7 linked regions of the Homo sapiens genome follow. The protein of the gene in region 5 interacts with the protein of the main gene of each other region in a pairwise test. Each region holds a gene or a part of one and is shown on either strand. Other genes may lie near its edges. The genes, in order: ZMYM2, HEYL, NID2, ZMYM5, SKIL, TSKU and GOLGB1.

Region 1 (3,500 bases), on a different chromosome or scaffold from region 5:
AATCAAGGGACTGAAAAGTCATTCAACTTATAAAACAAGTTAGAACATTATAATTTTTTATGCCAAAACATTCAGATAATTATTGCTTAGATATACAATAATGACACCTGTGAAATTTTCCAAATCAGAATTGAGAAAATTTCTTTTGTGTGCTGTAACATTTATCCTATGGGAGAGAGGAGTATCTAAGGATGTGTAGCAATTGCTAGCCACTATGGAAAATAGCTCAATTTTCCCCTGAACAATTTCTAAACACTAATGCTACCATGGTCATTCAGGAATCAGAAGAAAACATGATTACACACATGCTAGAAAAGAGCCAAATGATTTCAAGATAATTTGCAGCTAGCACTTTGTTCAGTCTTTAGAAAGTAGATTTTAAGTTTCCTTATTCTAAAAGAAAAGGTCTGAATGGATAAATTGCTATGCAGAAGCACAAAGTTGTTTTTTTTTTTAATGCAATCTTCTATAAGAAGTAATTTCAAAAGCCAAACAATCTAACATTAAATGGGATTTCCTCTGAGACTGACTTTCTCTATTAGTTTCTTTGTTTGTTCCTCAATCATTTGCAATATCAGAATTACTACACTGGTAATCTTCATTATAAAATGTGATCCTATCTTATTTAACATAGCTTGACTTTCTGTAACTATTTCAGGAGTGGAATTTCTAAAAACAATTTTATCCAATGTAAACAGGCACAAGAATTCTGATAAAATTGCTAAGTTTTAGAGTACTACACAGCTAACATTGCAGCATGATCTGTATCCTTAAGAGGGAAAAAAAGAAATAAAAATCAAACCTCTATAAATGAAGAGGATTTCAGATACTTATGGCTGGCATAGAAGAAAACAGAATTTTATACTTTCACCAGACATTTTTACAAAGGAAATGTCTTGATGATCTTGTTTTCAACTTACAATCATTTATATATATATATATATATATATATATACACACACACATACATACATATATATACATATATATATTTGTTTTTTATTGATTGGGTGATGCAGAAAGCCACAAATGAGAAAAGGACACTAAGGTTTTAATAAGGGGAACAAAAAATTGTTTTCACCAGCATAGATTCACATTACAGTACACCAATATTGACAGCATTCTCTTGTCTATTTTTGGTACAGAAGATGGTATCTCTCTACATAACCTTGTAAGGCTTCAGTAACTAAAATGTAAAACCAAACAAAACAAAACCCCAAAACAAAACAAAAACCCCAGCCTATTAGTTTACAGTTTATTTTAAAAATTCCGAAAGACACTGCAAGTTCTAAACTTTTAGTAGTGCTACCCATACACAACCATCTGGTTAAGAACCCAGTAAAAGAGCCCCCTTCCAAGGAAGCTTTGCAACAGTAGAGTTGTGCAATATGGATGTTTCTTACTACAAGAAAAAAATTATACATGGCACATTCTCATTCATATTCTGTAATGTAAAAAGTTACAAACATACCTAATCAAATAAATAATAATAAAAAAAGAATTTGAATGTATTTGTTAAGTATCCTAAAACCACTACATAGAATAATGGCAACTTTCACTCACAGATTATTTACATGGTAATACCCAGCGTGGGTACACTGCTACAAAACTCAAAACAGAAGGAGTAAACTTGAAATGTTTTCCATAATAAAGATCTAGCAGCATGACTATCTAATGCTGTTTTATCCCGATTGCTTCTGCAACGTTCCTTTTTAGTCTGTGTCTTCATCCAGTTCATAATTGTCTTTATCATAAATATCTTTTACTAGAAGAACCCGTACAAGCATATTTTCCAAGGTGTTTCGGTCCAGTGAAGTAGACGTATACCAGACAGGGCTATCTGTAGAACTAGAGCATTCTGGTTGCAAATAAAAAACATCCATCCTCTGATTAAGATTCTGTGGACTTTGGAGGCGGGAGGAAAAAGAGAAAAAGTCAATTTCACAAAATTTCCACAACTTTTTCTTTTTTCAAGAATAATTCAGACCCCATTAATCACGTTATATGACCAGACCCCCTATGCCCCACTGTCTCCATTATTCTGTCATTAAAATATTCTCAAAGTTATTTTCTGAGATAGAGATTATTTCCCACAATTTTAATTCTACTTCACTAAATCCAAGACACTATCAATAGACACACCACTCATTATTTTAATGCTACCATTAAGCAAGTGAAACACTGCCAATTATGATTTCAAGATGCAACAATTTAAACTGTGCATCCCAGTTTCAGAAATAGTGAAATGTGAAAATGTCTTAGAATTGATGAAATATGTATGGCAGCACATAAAATTAAAAAATTCTTACAGCACTACATAATAGAAACTCAATTTTTAAAATACCAACAAGGTAATAGTGAGATAGGAATTTCCTACTAACAAATAGTTACTACCAACTGAAGACCCTGACACTACTGCAGCCAAATAGGACCACCCTAAACCATGGTGAGAAATACAGGCTGAGCATCCCTAATTCAAAAATCCAAAATCTGAAACTCTTTGCCAAAATGACACCAAAAGTGGAAAGTTCCACACCTGACCTCATGTGAGGAGTTCGCGCCCAAAACACAGGCACATAACACACAGGTTATTCAGCAACCCCAAGGGGAAAATAAAATCACCTTCAGGCTATGCATAAATAAAATTATCTTCAGGCTACATGTATAAGGTGTATATGAAATATAAATGAATTTCATGTTTAGAGTTGGGTCCCAGCCCTAAGACATCTTATAATGTATATGCAAATATTCCAAAATCCGAAAAAATCTGAAATCTAAAACACTTCTGGTCAGAAGCATTTTGGATAAGGCGCATTCAACTTGTACTAATATCATCCTATACATGATACTATTGTTTTTACAAGTCCTTGAGGGCCATCCTGGGGACCTGTGATTTATAAATTTGTTTAAACAGGGAAGTACATTTTGAATTCATGCTGACCTTCTGAAAATTAGAGAGTGCTTACTTAAAACAACAGGCAAGCATAAAATAATCTATGGTCTCTAAACGTTTTATTGGCTTAAACTTTTTAAAATGCCTGTTGGTCTGAGATTGAGGGGAAAAAAAATTCCAGAACATGATTCCATTTTTCATACCTGCTTGACTGTTTTCTCTTAAATGTAAATACTTCACTTACATTTCCACCTATCTATACTACCTTTGAGCATACCTTTACACCGGGCATTGGCAAACTACAGCCAGCCACCTGCTTATGTGAAGTTTTATTATAACACAGCCACATGCCATGAATTTATATATAGTATATGGCTGCTTTCTAGTCACAAGAGAACCGATTAGTTACAATAGTGATTCCATAGGCCCAAAAGCCTAAAATATTTACCATCTGACCGTTTAAGAAAAAGTTTGTGTCCCTTGCTTTGCTGTCATTGGAATTGCTGTAATTTAAAAGACAATGACAGGCGCAATGGCTCATGCCTGTAATTCCAGCACTTTGGGAGGCTGAGGCACGAGGATGGCTTGAGGTCAGGAGTTCAAGACC
Region 2 (3,354 bases), on a different chromosome or scaffold from region 5:
TGAGACCAGAACAGCTCCAGGAGAGCTGGGTGGATAAGCTGGGATAACAGTGAGAAGGAGAGATGGGTTGGAGGAGGAGGGGGCCTCTGATGGCTGGAGAACGTGCCTTCACATATGAGCCAGTCCATGAAGCAAAGCAGAAAAGGCAGTGCCCTTTTTTGGGCTCCTGGTAAAAGAACCTTCCTTATTCCTTGGGGCGGGGTGGTGAAGGGGCAGCTCAGAAAGCCCCGATTTCAGTGATTTCAGAGACCCAGGAGTGGTAGAGCATGGCTCCCGCTGGCCTCCCAGCTGGCCCTGGGGAGGATGAGTTGGGGGTGGGAACAGCCACGTAAGCAGCCGACCCTGTAGGACCAGGGGGTGTTGGGGAGGAAGACTGCAGGAGGGGAGCGATGTGGCTGCTCCTGGCAGCCCTGCTGCTGGGGGCGACAGGCACAGGGGTCGCTGGCCTCTCTAGGGGGCGGGCCCTCCGGGTGGAAGATGCCCCTCGACTGGGCAGCACATTCCTCCGGGCTGGCAGGATGATGCCTGTGGCTCTGCGAAGGGGAGCGGTTCGGAGGGCTGGGATGGGGTAAGCAGGAGAGGAGACACCGGGGAGGACAGGGCTGGGCACTCTTCCCAGGATGGCGAGCTGGTTGCTCAGGGCTGGCAGCCCTGGACAGCTATGGAAGAAAGACCAGGGCCAGGCAGGGAAGGCCAAAGGGCCAGTGGGCGTGGGCGAAGGCTCCATCTCGGCTGCGTAGCTGTTGAGGTGGGAGAGAAGGCGAATCCGGACGGGGTCTGCACGGCTGCTGGGCCCTTCAAGGACCCCCAGGTACCTGATGACCTCAGTGAGGCACTCCCGAAAACCAATGCTCCGGAAGTCAACTGCCAGGGCTCGGGCATCAAAGAATCCTGCAAAGGGAGGCGTGATGAAGGTCATGCCAGGTGTGGGGAGAAGCATGGAGCCTGGGTCTGACTGTCTGAGTTCTGGACCTGCCTCCTCCACTCACTCCCTGGGCAGCCGTGGCCATGTCATCCTGCCTCTCTGAGCCTGTCTCCCCATCTGCAAAGTGAGAACAAAAATCCCTTCCTGGGGTGGAGGATGATGGGTTATAATGATCAATGAATTCACTAAACTATGAAGCATTATAAAATGTAAAATATTGCTTTCATCACAATTCATGATTAATGCAAAGAAAAAACTTTGTGGCCAAGATAACTTCATTGAAGTAGATACTTGACAGATATGAAAGGTTATGCACTTGGAGGTGTAGAACAACTCTGCCTGCTGAGAGGGGCAGATGCCCAGGAAGGGAGGTGGCGGCAGCAGCCATCAGAGTGAGGAGGCCCCTTGGAGAAGGCAGCGTAGTGTAGCAGTGAAGTGTGAGGTCGTCGGAAGCCAGGAGAGCTGGGTTCAAATCCTGGCTCTGCTACTTAACTAGCTGCCTGATTGTGGACAAGTCTCTTTATCTCTCTGTGCCTCAATTTCCTTAGCTGTAAAATGGGGATATAGCAGTGCCTACCGTATAGAGTTATGAGGGTGAAATTAAAATAGTGCACAGAAAATGCTGAATAAATGAAAAGTTAGCTATCACTTATATTACTGGCTTGGCCTTGTTGGCATCTGAGTTTGTCCCTTGGCTCAAAAGGCAATCTGGAAAGCAAGACCCCACTGTGATCCTCAGCTGCTGTTATCGGCCAGGGACCCTCTCTTTGATGGATAACCAGGTGAACTTCCTGTACAAATATTCACATCCTCACTGCCTCTCCATACCTGTTCCTCTCTTGACCACCTTCTGGGCAAAGACACAACAACCCCAGCCAGCACTGGTCTCATGACGATGGCAGCAAATATCTAGTCCTTGGTTCATGGCCCCCACAGAGGAACAGCTCAGCTGGAGACTATGTTTGGAGTCAGGTCAACTTGTGGGTGAGAACCAAATCTGCTATACACTTAGCCATGTAAGTTCAAGCAAATCCCTTCACCTTTCTGCGTTTGCTGTTCTTTTTTTCTTTTTTTATTTTTTTTGAGATGGAGTCTCGCTCTGTCCCCCAGGCTGGAGTGCAGTGGCACGATCTTGGCTCACTGAAATCTCCGCCTCCCAGGTTCAAGAGATTCTCCTGCCTTAGCCTCCAAAGTAGCTGGGATTACAGGCAACAGCCATCACAGCGACTAATTTTTGTATTTTTAGTAGAGACAGGGTTTCACCATGTTGGCCAGGTTGGTCTCGAACTCCTGACCTCAGGTGATCCGCCCACCTCGGCCTCCCAAAGTGTTGGGATTACAGGTGTGAGCCACTGCGCCTGGCCTTTGCTGTTCTTTTCTTTTTCTTTTTCTTTTATTTTTGAGACGGAGTCTCGCTCTGTCGCCCAGGCTAGAGTGCAGTGGTGCGATCTCGACTCACTGAAAGCTCCGCCTTCTGGGTTCATGCCATTCTCCTGCCTCAGCCTCCCGAGTAGCTGGGACTACAGGCGCCCACCACCACACCCGGCTGATTTCTTTTTTTGTATTTTTAGTAGAGATGGGGTTTCACCGTGTTAGCCAGGATGGTCTCGATCTCCTGACCTTGTGATCCGCCTGTTTCGGCCTCCTAAAGTGCTGGGACTACAGGCGTGAGCCACCGCGCCCGGCCCGCTGTTTTTTTCTAACATTTGCTGAATTCTTACTAAGCATTTCATCAAGTTATCTAATTTAATCCTCATAAAACCCTCTAATTATTCCCATTTTAGAGATGAGGAAACTGAGGAGGGGAGAGGTTAAATCATTTGTCTAAGGTCATACGGCTAGTAACCAGTAGAGCCCGATTCAAATCTAAAGCCTATACCGTGAACCACAGTTCTGTCTTCCCATTAGTTCACAGTCAGAAAATGGTGGTAACACTAACCCCCATCTTGCAGGTTCTTGTGAGAATCAAATGAAACAACACAAGTGAAAGCATTTTAAAACTGTCAAATGATATCCACATATTAGTCACTACTTTTCTTTTCACTGGATAACCATAAATGTAATTTGAATCTCCCCCATTGGTTCATTAGAGATGGAAGTCTCCACTCTTAGCAATGCATTTTTTTTGGCAGAAGTTCCCAAATGGACCACCTGCACCAGGATAATTGGGTGGCTTGTTAAACTTGCAAACTCCTAAACTTCAATCTAGACCTACTGCCTCAGAATCTCTGGGGGATGACTCCTGATTCTGCCTGCCCCAAGGTGACAATGGTATACACTGAGGCTTCAGAAGCACCAGAATGGGCCACTTAAAATGCTACTGTCCTCTTCTGTAGCAGTAAGTTAGGTCTCTGGAACTTAGGTCTTTGTGGCCAAGGCCTGTGGAGCTTTCAAGGTTTCCCAATTTTGAAATCACCAAATACACAGAG
Region 3 (3,500 bases), on a different chromosome or scaffold from region 5:
AATGGAATCAGATGATTTTCCACTGTGTCGATGCCATTCGAGACAGCCACCCTTTTTTTTCCTCCATTTTTGAGAAAACCCGCTCCCCAAAATGGGGTGCCTTGCATTAGGGAGGCTGCTGGCTCAGGAAGCATCAAACATCCCCTGGGGAAGGCTCCATCCACTCCTCTCCCAGCATCACACACTCCTCAAGTTTTCATCTATGGAGTCAGGGAAGGTTAGGAAAGAAGTGGGTCAAAGGGACAGAACCAAAGTGAAAGGGAAGGGCTGCAACGGTGAGACAGTCATTAACTGACTTCCACTTGGAGTCCCCAACAAACCGCAGAGATCACACCTTGTGACTAGTTGTCCTGTCACTTTGATTTCCAGGATTTCCATGGAGATGTTATGACATACAACCCTGGGGACTTAGGGTAAGAGTCGGTCCATTTTCCCTTGGATCACCATACAGCCTCCATGTGCTGACAACTCTAAAGTTCCCTTTCCATATTATCTGAAACTCCATGAACGAACCAGAGAGCACAGCCTTGGTCAGTGACAGGTGACTCCCAGCAAGAGAGAGCCCTGGTCCTATGGTGGTGGCATCGGGCCCATGCCGATGGGCTGCAGCTCAGAAACCCTCCAGGACTTCCCTGCACCAGTCCACCTCACTGCAACAGGGCCTGTGAGGTGGCTCCCACTGGGAAAGCCACGCAGCCCTGCCCCCTACAGGAGAAATCCACTTTACATGCAGAGACAGCAGGGTCTTAGCTGCATCCTTCTGAAGCCTGGTGCCATTGAGGGGTAAGTAGCCAATCTGCTGGCCCTGAGTATAGAGCAGGAAGGTGCCCACAGATGGAGGGGTCACATCTGGCCGGGGCGTGGGCCGGACCATGGGTGGAGCGACGGTGGGTATACCTGTGGGAGAGAGGGTGGGAGAGCAGGAAGGGGAACAAGGGCAGGCAGGGAGATGGGAAGAAAAGTTACTTTACCACATACCAGAGCCTCCAAAAATATCAAAAGTTCTTCGCCCTACGCAGATGTGCTCCAGATGTTCTTCAAAAGAAATTCTAATTTCTAGGGTTTTTTTAAGGATCAATTATGTAAATCTGCCATTTACTAGGGAAGAAGACAGCAAAACACTTCCCTCAGAACAAAGCAGAACAGATTTTTTTTTCAAGAGAAAAAAAAAACAGAGCCAGCATTGTGTCAGCTTCCTTTTAGGACTCCAGAGTGACACGTGTCCCCTGTCACCCTGGGCTGGGGAGGGGGAGTAACTGCCTGCTGAACCGAGTTGCAGATGTTCCAATTATGGAAGCTGCTAATGACAAAAACCAGACACCAAACGCAAATTGGGATCTTGTGTGGACCAGATTATAAATCAACATAGCACATAGTGACTTCTTTCATTAGACCTGGTGACCCCACATGTCCCCCCACTTCACCACAGCAGGCACCATCCCTAGCAAAGGCCTTAGATACAGCTGAGGGGAGCGGGGGCGGCCAGGTGCTTACACGCAGGGGTGGTGCCTGGCTGGGAGCGGGTGCCCTGCACCTCTCTGCCATCTTTGTCCACACACCAGCAGAAGTCGCTCTTTCCGTGGCACTGCAGGGGGATGAAGTGGCCCAGGTCATCGCACTGGGGCACGTACTGGTCATCCCGGGGGGTGCCACCGTAGTGCTCCAGCAGGTTTTCCCTCCAGCGCTCACAGATGGTCGGGGGCCTCTGGGTGGGCTCTGAGCAGATGGGGAAGAGGGAAGAAGAAAAACCTTTGATTGTGAGTCAAGGACAGAATGCAAAATGTAGCTCAAGACCCCATGCCTGGCCTCCTGGCCTTCCTTCTCCTACTGTCCAGGTCTCAGCCAAGCCCGTGGACACCAAACTTGGGAAGCAAATGTGTTCTAAGTACTTCTCCACCATGGGAATCAGAAATAGATCATGTGATGCTTCTTTCTTGCCAGGAGGGTCTGTCATCAAGGCCCAGCCACATCAAGAAAGAACAAGAGGAGGTAAGATCAGCAGTGCAGCTCACTCAGCCTGGGAAGGGGCATGATCTCCTTCTGGCCAGGAGAGGCCCACAAGGCCCATCCTGCCTGTACCTCGGGCGCCTCTGCTGACAGAGCACTTGTGCAGGTGATCCTTGGGGACTCAGTAGCCGAGGTGATGCTTAAAGCCAATTTGTATTCATTCCCCACTTGCTTCAAGCTTCAAGCTCGAAGCTGCTGAGGAGAGGGCCATCTTGCGACTGGCCAGTGTGTGTCTTAGAAAGTATTACTGAAAGCCCAGCGCCACGGTGCCCTCTGTCTACCCACTGGAAAACTACATGGAGTAAAGGTAAAACTGAGTGGAATTAGTAGTAAAGCATAGCAGAGGTGGTGGCAAACAGCTTAAAAATGGTTCTTCCACAGCCCAGTTTCCAGAATTGCTTTAGCCACCCTGCGCCTGGGATTATCTCAAAGCTGAATCTTTTCCTGCAGGCTCTAGCTTCCTGCCGTGTTGCCCTTTCCCCCCCTTTCTCCAGCATCCTCTCCTCTTGTCCCCTCCCTCACAGCTCACTCCATGGTTGAAGTCCTGCTGGCTTTGGTTGCAAAGCAGTTTCCTCCCAGGCTGCTTCCACAGTGCCATTGAGGCTTTGTCCAAAATACAGGTTGTTCTGAGAAGACTCTGCTGCAGAAGGTTATTGAGATAACTTGTTCATTTATGTTAGGACTACCCAAAGGAACTTAAACAAGAGGAGGTGCTTCTCCTTCCTTTTTAATTCCTGCAACTTAAAGCACATGGTCTGCAGAATCACATAGCCAATAACCCTACTTGCTACCACCATTTAGATGTATAATAGAAATCAGAAACTAATAGAAACTGAGCCCCTGCCTTCACCATCAAACCAGCTGCTCCCCTGGTCTTTCCCATATGAGTAAATGGCACCTCCATTTTTCCACTGCTCAGACCTAATTATCCTTGACCCTCCTTTCTCTCACCATCCACATTTGATATGTCAAAAACTCTTTTTAGGGGTAACTTCAGAATCCACTTAGAATATCTTTACTTCTCACTACTGCACCCCCTCACCCTGGTCAAAAAGCCTCATCCTCTCCCTGCAATTTCTGCAACAGCCTTCCCACTGGTTTTCCTGCTTCCACCCTTCTATGCCCTCACTCTCTCCAAAACCAGTGTAAATTCAATTAGCAGCAGCCAGAATGGCCCATTTTAAACATAAAGGCATTTCATGTCACTCCGTTCAAAACCCTCCAGTGACTCTAAAGAACAAAGCTGGGAGCATTATGATCAGGTTCCAGCACCTACAATTCCTCTTGGAACACAAAAGACTGCGAATGAAGTTGTCAGAGCTCAAACCCAACTAGCTCTAGCTCAACTGCACGACTCACCAGAATTGGGGGAAGCGAATGCCGTTAAGTTGTCACTGTAGCTCATGACCCATGGGAGACAAAGCTCTTTTTAAGACCCCGTGGAGAAGGTAAGACTCTGACTTCTTCAGCCAAATGTGTCTCAAGGAACACAG
Region 4 (3,500 bases), on a different chromosome or scaffold from region 5:
TCCAAATAACCAATGCACAATGTTATTAATACAAAGGTTAAAAATCCATTCAAAATCAATAGATTTTAAACTAATAGACCAGTCTGTACCAAATACAGTCCCCCCCTTTTTTTTAAGGAAAAAAAAAACTAGCAGGGTGTTATGGCATGCACTTGTAGTCTCAGCTACTTAGGAGGCTGAGGTGGGAGGATAACTTGAGCCCAGAAGTTTGAGGCTGCAGTGAGCTATGATCATGGCACTGCACTCTAGTCTGGGAAACAGAGTGGGATGCTGACACATAAAAAAATTAAAAATAAACAGTATGAAAAAAATTTTTTTGAGACAGTCTCGCTCTGCTGCCCAGGCTGGAGTGCAATGGCATGATCTCAACTCACTGCAACCTAGGCCTCCCAGGTTCAAGTGATTCTTGTGTCTCAGCCTCCCCAGTAGCTAGGACTACAGGCATGCACAACCACACCCAGCTAATTTTTTGCATTTTTAATAGAGATGGGGTTTTGTCATGTTGGCCAGGCTGGTCTCGAACTCCCAGCCTCAAGTGATCCGCCTGCCTTGGCCTCAAAAAGTGCTGGGATTATAGGCATGAGCCACTGCGCCTGGTGATGAAAACTTAATTATACGGTTACAAATCCCACATTGTAACAACCTCGAAAACTACTAATTGTCAAGTTTTGGTGCTGCATCAAAAGAAAACTATCCACATCTAAAAAGACGTGGAAAATAGTCCTCCCTTCTCCAACCACCTATCTATGTGAGGCCAGATTTTCTTCTTATACTTCAAGCAAAACAAAATACTACAACAGACTCAATACAGAAATACATATGAGAAGCCAGATATACCTGTCTTCTATTAAGCCAGATTTTAAAGAGATTTGCAAAAATGTAAGACAATGTTACTTTTCACTAAATTTCTTTGAAAATAGTTATTTTTCATTACAAATGTTATTTATGTTATATAATGGGTAATTATTGTGAAATGAATAGTTTTAATTTTTCTTTTTTTTTTTTTTCTGTGAGATGGAGTCTCACTCTGTCGCCCATGCTGGAGTGCAGTGGCGTGATCTTGGCTCACTGCAACCTCCCGGGTTCAGGTCATTCTCCTGCCTCAGCCTCCCGAGTAGCTGGGACTACAGGCACCTGCCACCATGCCCGGCTAATTTTTTTTTTTTTTTTTTTTTTTTGTATTTTTAGTAGAGACGGGTTTCACTGTGTTAGCCAGAATGGTCTCGATCTCCTGACCTCGTGATCCGCCCACCTCGGCCTCCCAAAGTGCTGGGATTACAGGCGTGAGCCACTGCGCCCGGACTAGTTTTAATTTTTCTTAAGATTTTATCTTATTTTTTGAAACAAAAAAATTTCTGTCGCCCAGGCTGGAGTGCAGTGGCATGATCTCAGCTCACTGCAACCTCAGCATCCTGAGATCAAGCAATTCTCATGCCTCAGCCTCCCAAGTAGCTGTGACTGCAGGAGCATGCCACCATACCCAGCTAATTTTTTTTTGTTGTTTTTTGTATTTTTGTAAGAGACGGGGTTTCACCATGTTGGCCAGGCTGGTCTTGAACTCCTGACCTCAGGTGATCCGACAGCCTTGGCCTCTGAAAATGCTAGGATTACAGGTGAGAGCCACCACACCCAGGTAATTATTATTTTTTGAGACCGGGTCTCACTCTATTACCCAGGATGGAGTGTAGTGTTGTGATCATGGCTCACTGTAGCCTCAAACTCCTCGGCTCAAGTGATCCTCCTGCCTCAGCCTACGAAAAGTGCTGCAATTACAGATGTGAGCTACTACGTCCATCCATTATTATTATTTTTTAAAGACATTAGGTCTTGCTATGTTGCCCAGACTGGACTCAAACTCCTGGGCTCAGGTGACCCTCCCACCTCAGCCTCTTTGTTTTTTTTTGAGACAAGTCTCACTTTGTCGCCCAGGCTGGAGTGCAGTGGAGTGATCTGGGCTCACTGCAACCTCTGCCTCCCAGGTTCAAGTGATTTTCCTGCCTCAGCCTCCTGAGTAACTGGGGCTACAGGTACATGCCACCATGCCTGGCTACTTTTTAATTTTTTTAGTAGAGATGGGGTTTCACCACGTTGGCCAGGGTGGTCTCAAAATCCTGACTTCAAGTGATCCACCTGCCTTGGCCTCCCAAAGTGCTGGGATTACAGGTGTAAGCCACCATGCCCAGCCCCACCTCAGCCTCTTGAATAGCTGGGACTACAGGTGCACGCCACTATACCTGGCTAAAGCTTTAATTTTTAATATATCTAATAATAGAAATAAAAGAAACCTTTGGGGTCTTCATTTTAAGAGTGAATCTGAGACCAAAAAAATTGAGAATAAGTACCCTATGGAAAAAATAAAAAATGTAAACATACGTATTTATTGTAGCTTCAAAACAATGAAAAAGCATGTAAATGATGAAAAAAATACATAGGGGAATGAGTACTTCAGACAAATATTTTGTGGTTACTAAAACTTATATATACATATTTTTAGAGACAGAGTCCCACTCTGTTGCCTAGGCTGGAGTGCAGCGGTAGGATTAAAGCGCAATGTGACCCCAAACTCCAGGTCTCAACTGACCCATCGCAGCTTCCTTAAGTGCTGAGTTTACAGGTGCACATCATGGCGCCTGGCTAATTTTTTTTTACTTTTTATAGAGATGAGGTCTTCGCTACGTTACTGAGGCTGGGTTCAAACTCCTGGCCTCAAGTGATCCTTCTTCCTTGGCCTCACAAAGCGATGACATTACAGGGGTGTGCCACTGCACCCAGCCTATATTTTTATGATGACATAAAATATTAGCATTTAGATTAAGTAAATCAGCAGGATACAAAACAATATAAAAAGTGCTCTAAATTATATTTTTAAAAACCAAAGATTGAAAGCAAACAAACCAAATTCTTCACAGTGGTCACATTATTTCTAGTTACTGGGGTAAGGAGACATATTTTCTGATTTCTATGATTTTTTTCTAAATATTCTATAATAATCACATAGTATTTCGTAACCAGAAGATAAAATTAATTTTAAAAATAAGGAAAAAAGTTGGCCGGGCGCGGTGGCTCAGGCCTGTAATCCCAGCACTTTGGGAGGCTGAGGCGGGTGAATCACTTGAGGTCAGGAGTTTGAGACCAGCCTGGCCAACATAGTGAAACCCCATCTCTACTAAGAATACAAAAAATTAGCTAGGCGTGATGGCACACGCCTGCAATCCCAGCTACTCGGAAGGCTGAGGCCCGGGGATCACTTGAACCCAGGAGGCAGAGGTTGCAGTGAGCCGAGATCGTGCCACTGCATTCCAGCCTGGGTGACAGAGACTCTGTCTCAAAAAAAAAAAAGGGAAAAAGCACTATTTTCCTGAAGGCAACAACATGATTAGGTTCTCAGGTTCTCGTTACTTTTCAGTACTTTCCTAAAATTCAACAGGCTATAAACACTAAAATGGTCAAAAAAACAATACCAACTCTCCCCCAAACCCCTCACAAGTCACATAAAAGCA
Region 5 (3,500 bases):
TCCCAGCTACTAGGGAGGGTGAGGTGGGAGGATCACTTGAGCCCAAAGGTTGAGGCTGCAGTGACCGCAATCTCACCACTGCACTTCAGCCTAGGCGATAAAGACTCTGTCACAAAAAAAGAAAAAAAAAGGAGGAAAGAAAAACAAGGATCTCCTGAAGACTGACAGCAAATAAAAGGTAGGAAAGGAAAAAAATTCGGACAAAAATAACTTGCAGTCTGAGGCCAGGTAGCCTGTATCTATCTCAGTCTCCTGAGCTATCACCACGCTAGAAAAGTATAGCAACTGAGATTAAAATAAATCACCCAGAGTTTTGAAGGGTAGCATTTTTAAAGGTAAAAGCTCCAATTATCTGAAAATTTAGCTCAAACAAAAAGCCTGTTTGAAAATGCTCAATAAATGTGTTCATTAGATATTTAATTTTAGAAAGATAATCTCTGAATACTTACCTAAACGGCTACATAATTCTCTACTTGTTTTTAAATCCATTTTCTCCTGTTCCTCAAGTGAGACATCTGGATAAGACACTGTTTTTTGAAGTTTACCACTACTGTGAGCCTTCTCTGACTGTCTTGATATGGACTTACTTGCCTCTGTCTTTGTGAGCTCTTTAGACTGGGATACAGCAGAAGTAAGTGACACATTTGGGGCAACCACTTTATCACACATGTATAAGTAGTAGCTGAAAACAAGTAAAAGCAAAACAAGACATATATTACATATTACAATTAAGTAAAAATCAAATATGTAACATGCATTTCTGTGGTTAAACTTTTTTTTTTCTAACCAAAACAGACAATATTACAACTCAGAAAATAAAGGTCACAGTAAAGAATTCTTAGGAAAAAAATCAACACTTTAGGCATTACAAACAAAATTATAAGGGATTTTTTGTTAGTTTGCAAGTAACCCAGGCTGGAGCGTAGTGGTATGATCATGGCTCACTGTAACCTCTAACTCCTGGGTTCAAGCAATCTTCCTGCCTCAGCATCCCAGGTAGCTGGGACCACACATACCCATTTTTTTTTAGAGATAGGGTCTTGCTATGCTGCCAAGTTGGTCTTGAACTCCTGGGCTCAAGTGATACCCTCCCACCTCCAACTCCCAAAGCACTAGGATTACAGGCATAAGCAACCATAACCAGCTTGCAAGTAATTTCGTGTTTTTTTTTTTTTTTGGCAAGTAATTTCTAAGCACTAAAAAGATACACAGAAGGAAAATCACAGGCTCTTCTCCTTCCCTCAAAACCACCTGAGAATTAAAAGCATTAAGGACTTTATACAGCTGTGTAACAACTCTGAGCAGGTAAGTTTTACTCCAGAAAAAGAATAATCTATAACTACTTTGGAGGACTTTATCTTGCCCACCACCCTTCCAAAGCAGGGAATCTTTGCTTTGGTGAGGCTGCTTCAGTGGCAGACTGCAAGGCTATGTCCTGACTCACAGGAGGCTCAGTGAGGAGCTCCCAGGGCTCTTCTTATATACCTCAGAGAGAGAGCTCTGAATGTCGCCCAGCTACTGGGCAGTTCTTGTATCAAACCCCACTGAGCAATCTTCTTGAAATACTTCACTACTTCCTACTCATTTGATAAAATGGCAACAATAAATTATGCAAAACTAAGATAAAAGAGATTACCAATTTTGACCAAAACTCACATAAAATTGCCCAGTAGACTCATGTGAGAAGCTCATGGGACAAACAAATTTCAGCTAGATATTTAAGTACCATATTTGTAACTATATTCTGAGTAACACTTAGCAAAAAGATGTAACCATTTAAGACTTGACACTCTATCCCCTGAACTCCAGACAATCTCCTCTTACATTTCATTTTCTTTGTACTAAGACATCTATATTGTTCCCCTTTGTTAATAACATCCATTTTTGAGCCAAAATCTCAGTTTTCTGACAGGACAAGAAAATTGACAGGTTTAATAGGGCTCAAAAGACTTACTGCAAATACAACAGGTAAAGTAGTGATTGTACAAATGTAAATAAGACTCAGTCCCCTTATCACCATACTTGGAGGGAATACAGATTTACACTAGTAGAAAAAAATCTAGGGCTCAACAACAAAAAACTTACAATCTAGGGTGAACATTTATTGAAACAGTAAAACTCTGATTTTGAGAAGTACGGTTATTAAGAAAGCTCTTAGTTTCAAAAGAATTTCTTTTTAAAATATCAAAGTTGCAGGCCGGGTGCAGTGACTCATACCTGTAATCCCAGCACTTTGGGAGGCTGATGGCAGGTGGGTCACTTGAGGTCAGGAGTTCGAGACCAGCCTGGCCAACATGGTGAAACCTCGTCTCTTCTAAAAATACAAAAATTAGCTGGGCGTAGCAGCGGATGCCTGTAATCCCAGCTACTCAGGAGGCTGAGGCAGGAGAAATGCTTGAACCCGGGAGGCGGAGGTTGCAGTGAGCCGAGATCATACCATTGCACTCCAGCCTGGGCAACAGAGCGAGACTCCATCTCAAAAAAAAAAAAAAAAAATTGAAGTTGCGGCTCGGGGCGGTGGCTCACACCTGTAATCCTAGCAGCACTTTGGGAGGCCAAGGCTGGCAGATCACCTGAGGTTCAAAACCAGCCTGGCCAACATGGTGAAACCCCATCTCTACTAAAAATACAAAAAAATTAGCCAGGAGTGACAGCTGGCGCTCAGGCTCAGCTACAGGATGCCATGACAAGAGAACTGCTTGAACCTGGGAGGCAGAGGTTGCAGTGAGCCAAGATCCTGCCACTGCACTCCAGTCTGGGTAACACAGTGAGACTTTGTCTCAAAAAAAAAAAAAAAAAAATCAAAGTTGCACACCAAATTCTTGAAGAGTTTGTTTACCTCTTGAAGAAAAGTAAGAAATTAAAGGAGAACTTCCATTTTTTACTTGAGGGCAAAAAGAAAATGACCTATTTCTAGAAAACACATAGAAACACATAGTAAAGGTTATTTCAAATATTCAGTGCAATTTACAATTCATTTCATTTCAGATTCTTTCTTTGAAATTTTTTCTAATAAGAGTAACAATACAATTCACCTACCATTTCCCTATAATGATAAATAGAAACAAAAAATACATTAAATACCAATGTACTTATTTAAAAATAATTTTGAATTTTCTTTTTTTCTTTTTTTTTGAGACAGTTTTGCTCTGTCGCCTAGGCTGGAGTGCAATGACGCGATCTCGGCTCACTGCAAGCTCTGCCTCCCAGGTTCAAGCAATTCTCCTGCCTCAGCCTCCCGAGTAGCTGGGACTACAGGTGCCCGCCACCAGGCCCGGCTAATTTTTTTGCATTTTTAGTAGAGACAGGGTTTCACTGTGTTAGCCAGGATGGTCTCGATCTCCTGACCTCATGATCCACCCACCTCGGCCTCCCAAAGTGCTGGGATTACAGGCATGAGCCACCGCGCCCAGCCTAATTTTGAATTTTCAAAGATAATCTATGATTAACAAGAAAGCCTGAAAATAAAGAAATAAATTCGTGGTCAGGCACAGTGGCTC
Region 6 (3,500 bases), on a different chromosome or scaffold from region 5:
CTTGGTTTTCTTATCTGTGTAACAGTATTCACACTGCCTCCCTCTGGGACCCGTACTCTACCCCCAGGAAAAAGAGAAATGAAGACTGGTAGCCACCAAAGAAGGCTGAGGGAGAAAGGGATCTTTCAGTCAAGATTCAACATTTTTTTCCAAATCTTGACCTGCAGATACAAGATATCCACTGATTGACCAGATTATAAAACACAAGAACAGGAGGACAAGGGCTTAGAAACCACATCCATCTGTGATTTGGGGGATATACCGTAAGGCCTTCCAGTGCAGGGGCCATGAATCATGCATTGTTGGGCCCACAGGGCCAGGTCCACAGTGACTCTAAGTTTGCTGATGGCCTGCAAGGACAAAGAGTAAATGGTACGGCCCCAACAGGCTCCAGGCAGGTCTCCCCAGGTGACACCGCACACACTGCTATGAGACACCTCTAAAACAGCTTTGGCCACATCACTCTCCTTATCAGAAACCTCTTGGGTTCTGCTTTTTACCTACAGAAATCAAGTTCTCCCATGCACGAGGCACCTGTAAGTTGTCACCACCTTCTTCTCCCCTCCCACCTGTCCCCAGCCCCTCATCTGGATTTGAACCCTCCTTGACAGCCAAAGTGGGAACAGCCTTCCCTTGATGGACTTTGAACAACTCTCAGCCTCTGCTAATACATCTCCAAACTTGGAGAATTCCAGGGCTTGGGAGCTGGAAGGCCCCTTGGGGATCATGGGCAACTGGGGCCCAGAGAGGGGCAGTGACAGCAAGGAATGGCAGAGCAGGGCCCAGGACCTGGGACCTGATGCCTCATGTGACTGCCAGAACTGCATGCATCCATCCCGCCTGCCCCTGGCCTGCTCCCAGCAAAACAAAGCCTGTTCTGTCCACTCAGGCCCTCGGGCCACCCCTCCCTCCTGGCCTCTCACCCCACAGGCTACCCACAGGCCTCCTTCAGTAAATTCTCTGCCGTGAGTTACCTGCTGTTTTCCTACTTGATGTGTAAGCAGCTTGGGGCGGTGCCCTGCCTACTTTACCTGTGTGTTCTTTCCCCCACCTGGGATCAGAGCCAGGCCTAGAGGGTGTGTGGAGGAAGAGCAGGATGAACGGGTCAACCGCAAGACCCAGACCAGGTGTGAACCTAGCTCTGTACCTACCAGCCTTGGGTAAGTCTTGGGACCCGCTCCGAGGGTCCTCAACAGGGCTAAGAACACAGGTTTGTTGAAAGGATTAAATGACAGAATGGCAGGCATTCCACTCACTATCTGCTACACAAATACTCAATGTGTGGTAGACAATGACGGTGATTTGCTAAGCCTTCTGAAGGCAGTCACCATGTGATCCTTCATGTTCCTCCCCACCCAAGTTCCCAGTGTGGCGCCAGGAGCACAGCAGGTCCGAGACTGGCTGTGATGACATTCTTCAGTCACTTCCCTGGTGTCTGCTGATAAGGACAGCTCTCTGGGTGTTGGGTTCCAGCTTGAACCTACCTGGCCCCAGCTGCCTGACCCTGGTGCTGCACTACAGCATCTCTGGTCTGTAAAGTTTTCCAGCTCCCCCCACCGCCCTCGACAACTTCCACAGGGCACTGTTGGCACAGGGCCCCACTGGTACAGGGCCCCAGCACCCCCGAGACCGGCCTTTGTCTCGATCAGCTGTTCCTCAACACAGAGCTGCCTCCCACCCTGCTCCCCTCAGTCATGAGTTCACTCAAGCTGATGCCGAGGAAATCCCCAGGTGGATGGTTCAGAAACGTCCTGCCCTCCAACCACTTTGTCAGCTCTGGAAACGCAAGGCAGAAAGAATTTCAAGGCCAGACTCCCGGAGCCCTGAGGGCCAGCTCTTGCAACAGACCCACCAATGCAGCACATCTGGACAAACACAGCAGCCCACCATGTGCTCTCCACCAGCATCTCACTTCTGCCTCACCAGAGCCTTGACCCTGGGGATACTGTCCCTATTTTGCAGACACAGAAATGGATGTTACTCAGCTGGGAAGGAGAGGACCCCGGACTTAACCCCAGATGTCTTAGCTCCAAATCCACTCTGCCTCAGCTTACAAATGAGCACATGTGCTTAGACCTGGTCATGCTGAACTGTACTTACATGTTTAACTGTCTATCCTACTGTGGGCAGGGATGCGATTAGGTTCCTTTTTATGCCCTTGAAGCTGAGCACTGAGCCTGGTACAGAGCAGACACCACGTGAAGATGCACCAAGCATCTAGAATACCGCTACCTCACCAAAGGACACCTCTCAACCTCTCCCATGCTTCCTCAACTACCATCTGTTCAGTCACCCTGCAGGATCAGCAGGTTAGATGGCGTCATATCTACTTTACAGCTGTGTTAAGAAGTCCAGAGAGGTTCTGTGATCTGTCCAGAGTCACACAGCCAGAGAGGACAGGGGCTGGACCCAGGACCCAGGTATTCTGACATCCAGTACCTGGCCTCCTCCATGACATGATCGCAGGGACCTGTAAGCCTAGCAACTTACCCAAGGAGGATAATCTACAGGGAGATGGGCAAGGCTCCCAGTAAGATTTTCTCCTTTCAATATGTCTTCTTCTTGAAGATTTTCAAGTTCCCATCAACCTGAGGCAGCGTACATGGACACATGAGGAGGCGCTATGGGGCAGAGGGCAAGGGTTTTGTAGCCAGGCAGTCTGGGTTCCAACCCAACAGGGCCTTCACTGCTCTGAGGCTTGCTCGTGCCCTCACCCCTCTGAGTCCTCGTCTGTAATATGGTGATAATCCCAGTGCTGGTCCTAACGGGTCACTGTGATGATTACATGAGGCAAAGTGAAGACCCAGACCTGGCCTGGCACATGTTGGTATTCACTGAATGTTGGTTCCTGTCCCCAGTGAGTGATTTCAGGGACCAGGGAAGAAAAAGGTGCTGTGACACCAGCAAATCCTGAGGGAAGGCAGGGGCTGAAGATGGAGAAGAATCCACAATTCATCCCAGAGGCCTTGGATCCTCTCTCCACATACCATCCAGGATCCCAGTGTGGCTACAAGATGCTGACAAGGCACTCCCAGGAGACTGGGAAGGGTGAGCTGGAAAGGTCTCAGAGACCAAAGCAGGCAAAAGCTGCTGTGTTGCCTGTGACAGAATGAGGGCTCAGCATCAAATTCGCAGATCCCCCTGGGCAGTTGGGGTCACTGTCTTCCCTTTCCCTCATCCCTAAGCTGGGCAGTCACCTCCCCCTGTCCAGGTCAGGCTCAAGAGACCTGCTGCAACAGCCTCGCTCCTGGCCTGACTCCAACTGCCAGCCATGCTGGCACCAGAACGCACTTCCCAACAGAAGTCTGGGACCCTACTACAGCTCCCTCTTTAAAACCCATCCCACAGAGACAGCTTTCTAGTCTAGAGGCCTGTGACTCTTCTAGAGCCACCTGCCTTTTTGCACACGTTGTTCCCTCTGATGCAAAGATACCCTTCTTTGTCTACCAGCAAACTCTCACACATTTCATTCAAAAAGCCACCTCCTCTGTGAGGCTTTC
Region 7 (3,500 bases), about 49 Mb from region 5:
ACCCAACAAAACAAAACAAAACATAATAATGCCTATCTAACCTGCTACATGCTATTAAGCTTCTCTTCTCCCATTCCCACCCAGAGGGATCCCTAGGGGCCTAATGTTTTCACTATGTGCCAGACAAGAGTTCTCCCAGGACCATGCATGGACCTGCATCAATTTCATGCCCTAAGGCCCAGCTTATTTGGTTCAGTATTAGGATAGAATTTCCTCACTGCATTCATCACCTGGGGTCTAGCAGCTAAGGCTGGAAAAATGCATGCAGCTGTCACTGATATTGGCCAGTGAGAAGAAAGCCTGAATATGTAGAGCTTTCTACCCCTATAACCATTCCTGGCTACCTCCTTTCCCTACTTCCCTTACCCACCTTCCACCCCCCAGCATGCAAACACAGGTACCGAAACACCTGTGCACATATCCATTCACTCACACGTACACACACATACACACAAACTCTTCATTCTGAAAATAATTTTATTATTTTACAGTTGTTCAGGAAACTTCCCAGGATGTTGTAACCAAGATTTAATCACCACAGTAGATTTAGAGCAGATCAGTCAGCCCACTTGTCTTCTCTCTTCTTTAGGGAGAGGCTAGGCAGTGAACACATCACGTATGCAATGAGAAAATAACCAACTGGTAGGATGGGGGAGGGGAGGGGAGGCAGGGAATAGGCACAAATGGAATTCTATCCTGGCTGTCCTTCTCAGGTCTATCTATATTTAATTTTGTCTTCTCTATATTCTCCTTCCATTGCCACAGAGGGCAGAGACAATGGGGCTGAGAAACTGTAATAACTGTCACTAACAGCAAAGTAGCTTAGTACTTCAAGAGGTCAGGAGTTGCAGTGTGGTGTTAGACCAGTCAGACTCCTGGCTGAGAGTCAATGCCTAATATTGGCTCCCAGTGGCCCCTGAGCACTGTCTCAGGGTCCACATTCCAGGAATATTCAGATATTCCTGGAATGACAAGAATTGGAACCCTGCTGTCCATAGACACTTCTCCCTGCCCTTTGGTGAAAGGAAAGACTTGGGCCACTTAATACCTTAGTATACATGTGATCAAGGGCAAAAGCAAAGGGATTCTATCCTTATAGTCTAAGACCTGAAATTCTCCCTCCAATTATATCTGAAATTGGCAGGGAAGAAGATGCTGTCCTCCCATGTGATCTAACAGCTAAAACCCCTAGGGAGTTCCTTCAGCTTTCACCACCCTATTCTGCAAGAGACCTAAATCAGATGTCCTATGAGGTGACATGTTCATTTCCCTGAACTCTGTTTATGGCAGAGCCACCTTCCCCCTGAAACAGGAGAAAATACAGGCAAACAAGGCAAAGAAAGTTATCAATCAAAATGATACTGAACTTCAGATTATTAGGTTTATTGAAACCATCCTCTTGGCTTGGCTGAAAGACATTCCTCAGTATCTTTTACAGGACCACAAAAGATCAGGGTCCTGCAAAATCTCAACAAATATTAGGCTCAACAAACCAAATGTGATTCTCAGATTAAGCAGAAGCGTTCAGGCTCAGGGCAGTAGAAGAAAGCAGACTCGCCAGTCCCTGCAGCTCCAACCTGTCCTCGTATCCACCTCTGTTTTTGCAGGCACTTTCCGTGAAGAGTTGGAGAGAAGACCTGTAAATGGGAAGACTGTTCCACTGGAATTGATGTTCTGATGTTAGAGGTGAGAGAATTCCAAGTTTTGAGGGGAGTGGTCCAAAGAGTAACAACTAAGTCTATAGATGGCCCGTAAAACACAGAATGAGCAGGACATGAATCATTAGAAAGTAGATGGCTGCTAGAAGTGGCACTCGGGTCCGTGAATGACAGAGTGAACGCAGGACTCGCTTCCATCCAACGCCACTCCGGGTCTGAAAGAAAAATGTGAAAGTCAGAGAGTTTTCACCCTATAGGGCTATGTTGCTTTCCCTCCTACTAGTCTTGCACTTAAGCAAAGCTGACCCAACCACTGTAGAAAGGGGTATTCTGAGAGGAAAGTTGCCTCAGAGTCAACAACTTGGCAAATTCCACCAGGTTCTAATCTTCCACGCCCTTCCAGCCTTAGACTCATTCGCTGCTCAGTGGCTGGACTTCCACATTCCTTCTCCTCAGCTCCTTGCCCCCAGTATAGCCAGCCCTGTCAGATAATAAAACACCCTCTCTTTATCCTTCTTCCTCTTACCCTTCGACAACTGTTGCTTGTAAGATCTATTAACAGTGCCTGCTCCTGAGTGCCACAGGAGCCAATGATAGGAGTCCGGGAAGAGTCCCATTCACTGTGCTCTAACCTGAGTTGAGAAAAAAAAGAGGCATAGCATTGGTTCATAGCATGAGAGGCTGATCAGGCCCAGTCTTCCCAGTCATCCTGCCACACAATGCAGCACAGGAGGAGACTTGCAGCAAAAGCTGCTCCCATAAACCCAAACCCATGCAAGGGGGGTACCAGCAGATACGTTTCCTTCAGCAGCAGCAAAATGTGACAATAACTATCAGGAATTGACTGCCTACTCACTATGTATCAGGCTCTAGGCTGGGTGCTTTACATACATTTAATCCTCAGGTTCTGAGGTTGGTCTTATTATCTTCAAAGTGCTAAGGCTTACAGAGGTTAAATTACTTGCCCATGGCGGCACAGCCAGTAAGCGGCAGAGCCAGAATTCAATACCCAACTTTGTCTTTCAAGCCTCACGTTCTTTTTTCCACCACACCACACCTGACTTGGAGAAACTCATTACATTTTTTTCTTTTATTAAAGGCTAATAGGCAAAAGCATCCAAAGAAGATTTCTGTGGGGTTTTAAAAATTAAATTGAACTAAAAAAAATTAAATTGAATTGGCAGTCTCCACTGCCTTCTGGCTCAGTTTTTGCTGATTTGCTTATTTAATACTGGAACTTCTCCATTTAATGAAGAAGCTGCCATTACTCACTCAATGGTTATGTCAAACAAACAAAGGAGCTGCATGTAACACAGCACGTTTGATCAAGCATTTGCCTATAGGGATGAACTTTTTCAATAGGGAAGAGAGGATGAAACTCTTGCCTCTACTCTTTGTGTTTTCTCCTTCTGAAAGGATATCTATTAGTTTAATATTCTTGGGCTCTCTGCAGGACACATTCTTTTCCCCGGGAGAGAAGAAACACCTTAATCCAATTTGTGAGTCTAGAAAGAGAACTGAGCATGCACAGCCTAGCTCCTTCTTTCCTGCTTCCCTCCTGAGAGCCAGGCTGACTAAAAAATACACCTTCTGTGTCTATTCCTCCATGTGATAAGCTTTTCAGAAGCAGCTTTGATCTGGAACAGCATGGTCTGTTACTATGGAGGTCAGTCTGTCAATGTAGGCTATGCTGAGGAAGGATGAGAAGTCTGTAGGTATTGATGAGGAAGATGGTACTGGCTGCCTTTAAACTGGAGGGCCACTGAGTTCCACCTGCTCTTTAGAGTACATGTGAGATTCTAACATTACAATGGCAGTACCTGGACTAGGCAGGCAGCCCTT

Evidence for each region.
Region 1: the proteins of SKIL (region 5) and ZMYM2 interact in a two-hybrid assay, tested with the Homo sapiens proteins (one large-scale study listed by BioGRID and IntAct).
Region 2: the proteins of SKIL (region 5) and HEYL interact in a two-hybrid assay, tested with the Homo sapiens proteins (one large-scale study listed by BioGRID and IntAct).
Region 3: the proteins of SKIL (region 5) and NID2 interact in a two-hybrid assay, tested with the Homo sapiens proteins (one large-scale study listed by BioGRID and IntAct).
Region 4: the proteins of SKIL (region 5) and ZMYM5 interact in a two-hybrid assay, tested with the Homo sapiens proteins (one large-scale study listed by IntAct).
Region 6: the proteins of SKIL (region 5) and TSKU interact in a two-hybrid assay, tested with the Homo sapiens proteins (one large-scale study listed by BioGRID and IntAct).
Region 7: the proteins of SKIL (region 5) and GOLGB1 interact in a two-hybrid assay, tested with the Homo sapiens proteins (one large-scale study listed by BioGRID and IntAct).

The regions. Positions count from the first base shown.
Region 1 is NC_000013.11:20,084,227-20,087,726, reverse strand, and holds part of ZMYM2 (zinc finger MYM-type protein 2), read right to left. Parts: intron 1,906-3,500; coding exon 1,713-1,905; 3' UTR 1-1,712. UniProt on the Homo sapiens protein: Involved in the negative regulation of transcription.
Region 2 is NC_000001.11:39,626,290-39,629,643, forward strand, and holds part of HEYL (hairy/enhancer-of-split related with YRPW motif-like protein), read right to left. Parts: intron 892-3,354; coding exon 218-891; 3' UTR 1-217. UniProt on the Homo sapiens protein: Downstream effector of Notch signaling which may be required for cardiovascular development. Transcriptional repressor which binds preferentially to the canonical E box sequence 5'-CACGTG-3'.
Region 3 is NC_000014.9:52,013,560-52,017,059, forward strand, and holds part of NID2 (nidogen-2 precursor), read right to left. Parts: intron 1,717-3,500; coding exon 1,495-1,716; intron 898-1,494; coding exon 728-897; intron 1-727.
Region 4 is NC_000013.11:19,846,650-19,850,149, forward strand, and holds part of ZMYM5 (zinc finger MYM-type protein 5), read right to left. Parts: intron 1-3,500. UniProt on the Homo sapiens protein: Functions as a transcriptional regulator.
Region 5 is NC_000003.12:170,381,715-170,385,214, reverse strand, and holds part of SKIL (ski-like protein), read right to left. Parts: intron 683-3,500; coding exon 450-682; intron 1-449. UniProt on the Homo sapiens protein: May have regulatory role in cell division or differentiation in response to extracellular signals.
Region 6 is NC_000011.10:76,786,356-76,789,855, reverse strand, and holds part of TSKU (tsukushi isoform b precursor), read right to left. Parts: intron 1-3,500. UniProt on the Homo sapiens protein: Contributes to various developmental events and other processes such as wound healing and cholesterol homeostasis through its interactions with multiple signaling pathways.
Region 7 is NC_000003.12:121,662,742-121,666,241, forward strand, and holds the end of GOLGB1 (golgin subfamily B member 1), read right to left. Parts: intron 2,291-3,500; coding exon 2,185-2,290; intron 1,874-2,184; coding exon 1,739-1,873; 3' UTR 460-1,738; downstream 1-459. UniProt on the Homo sapiens protein: May participate in forming intercisternal cross-bridges of the Golgi complex.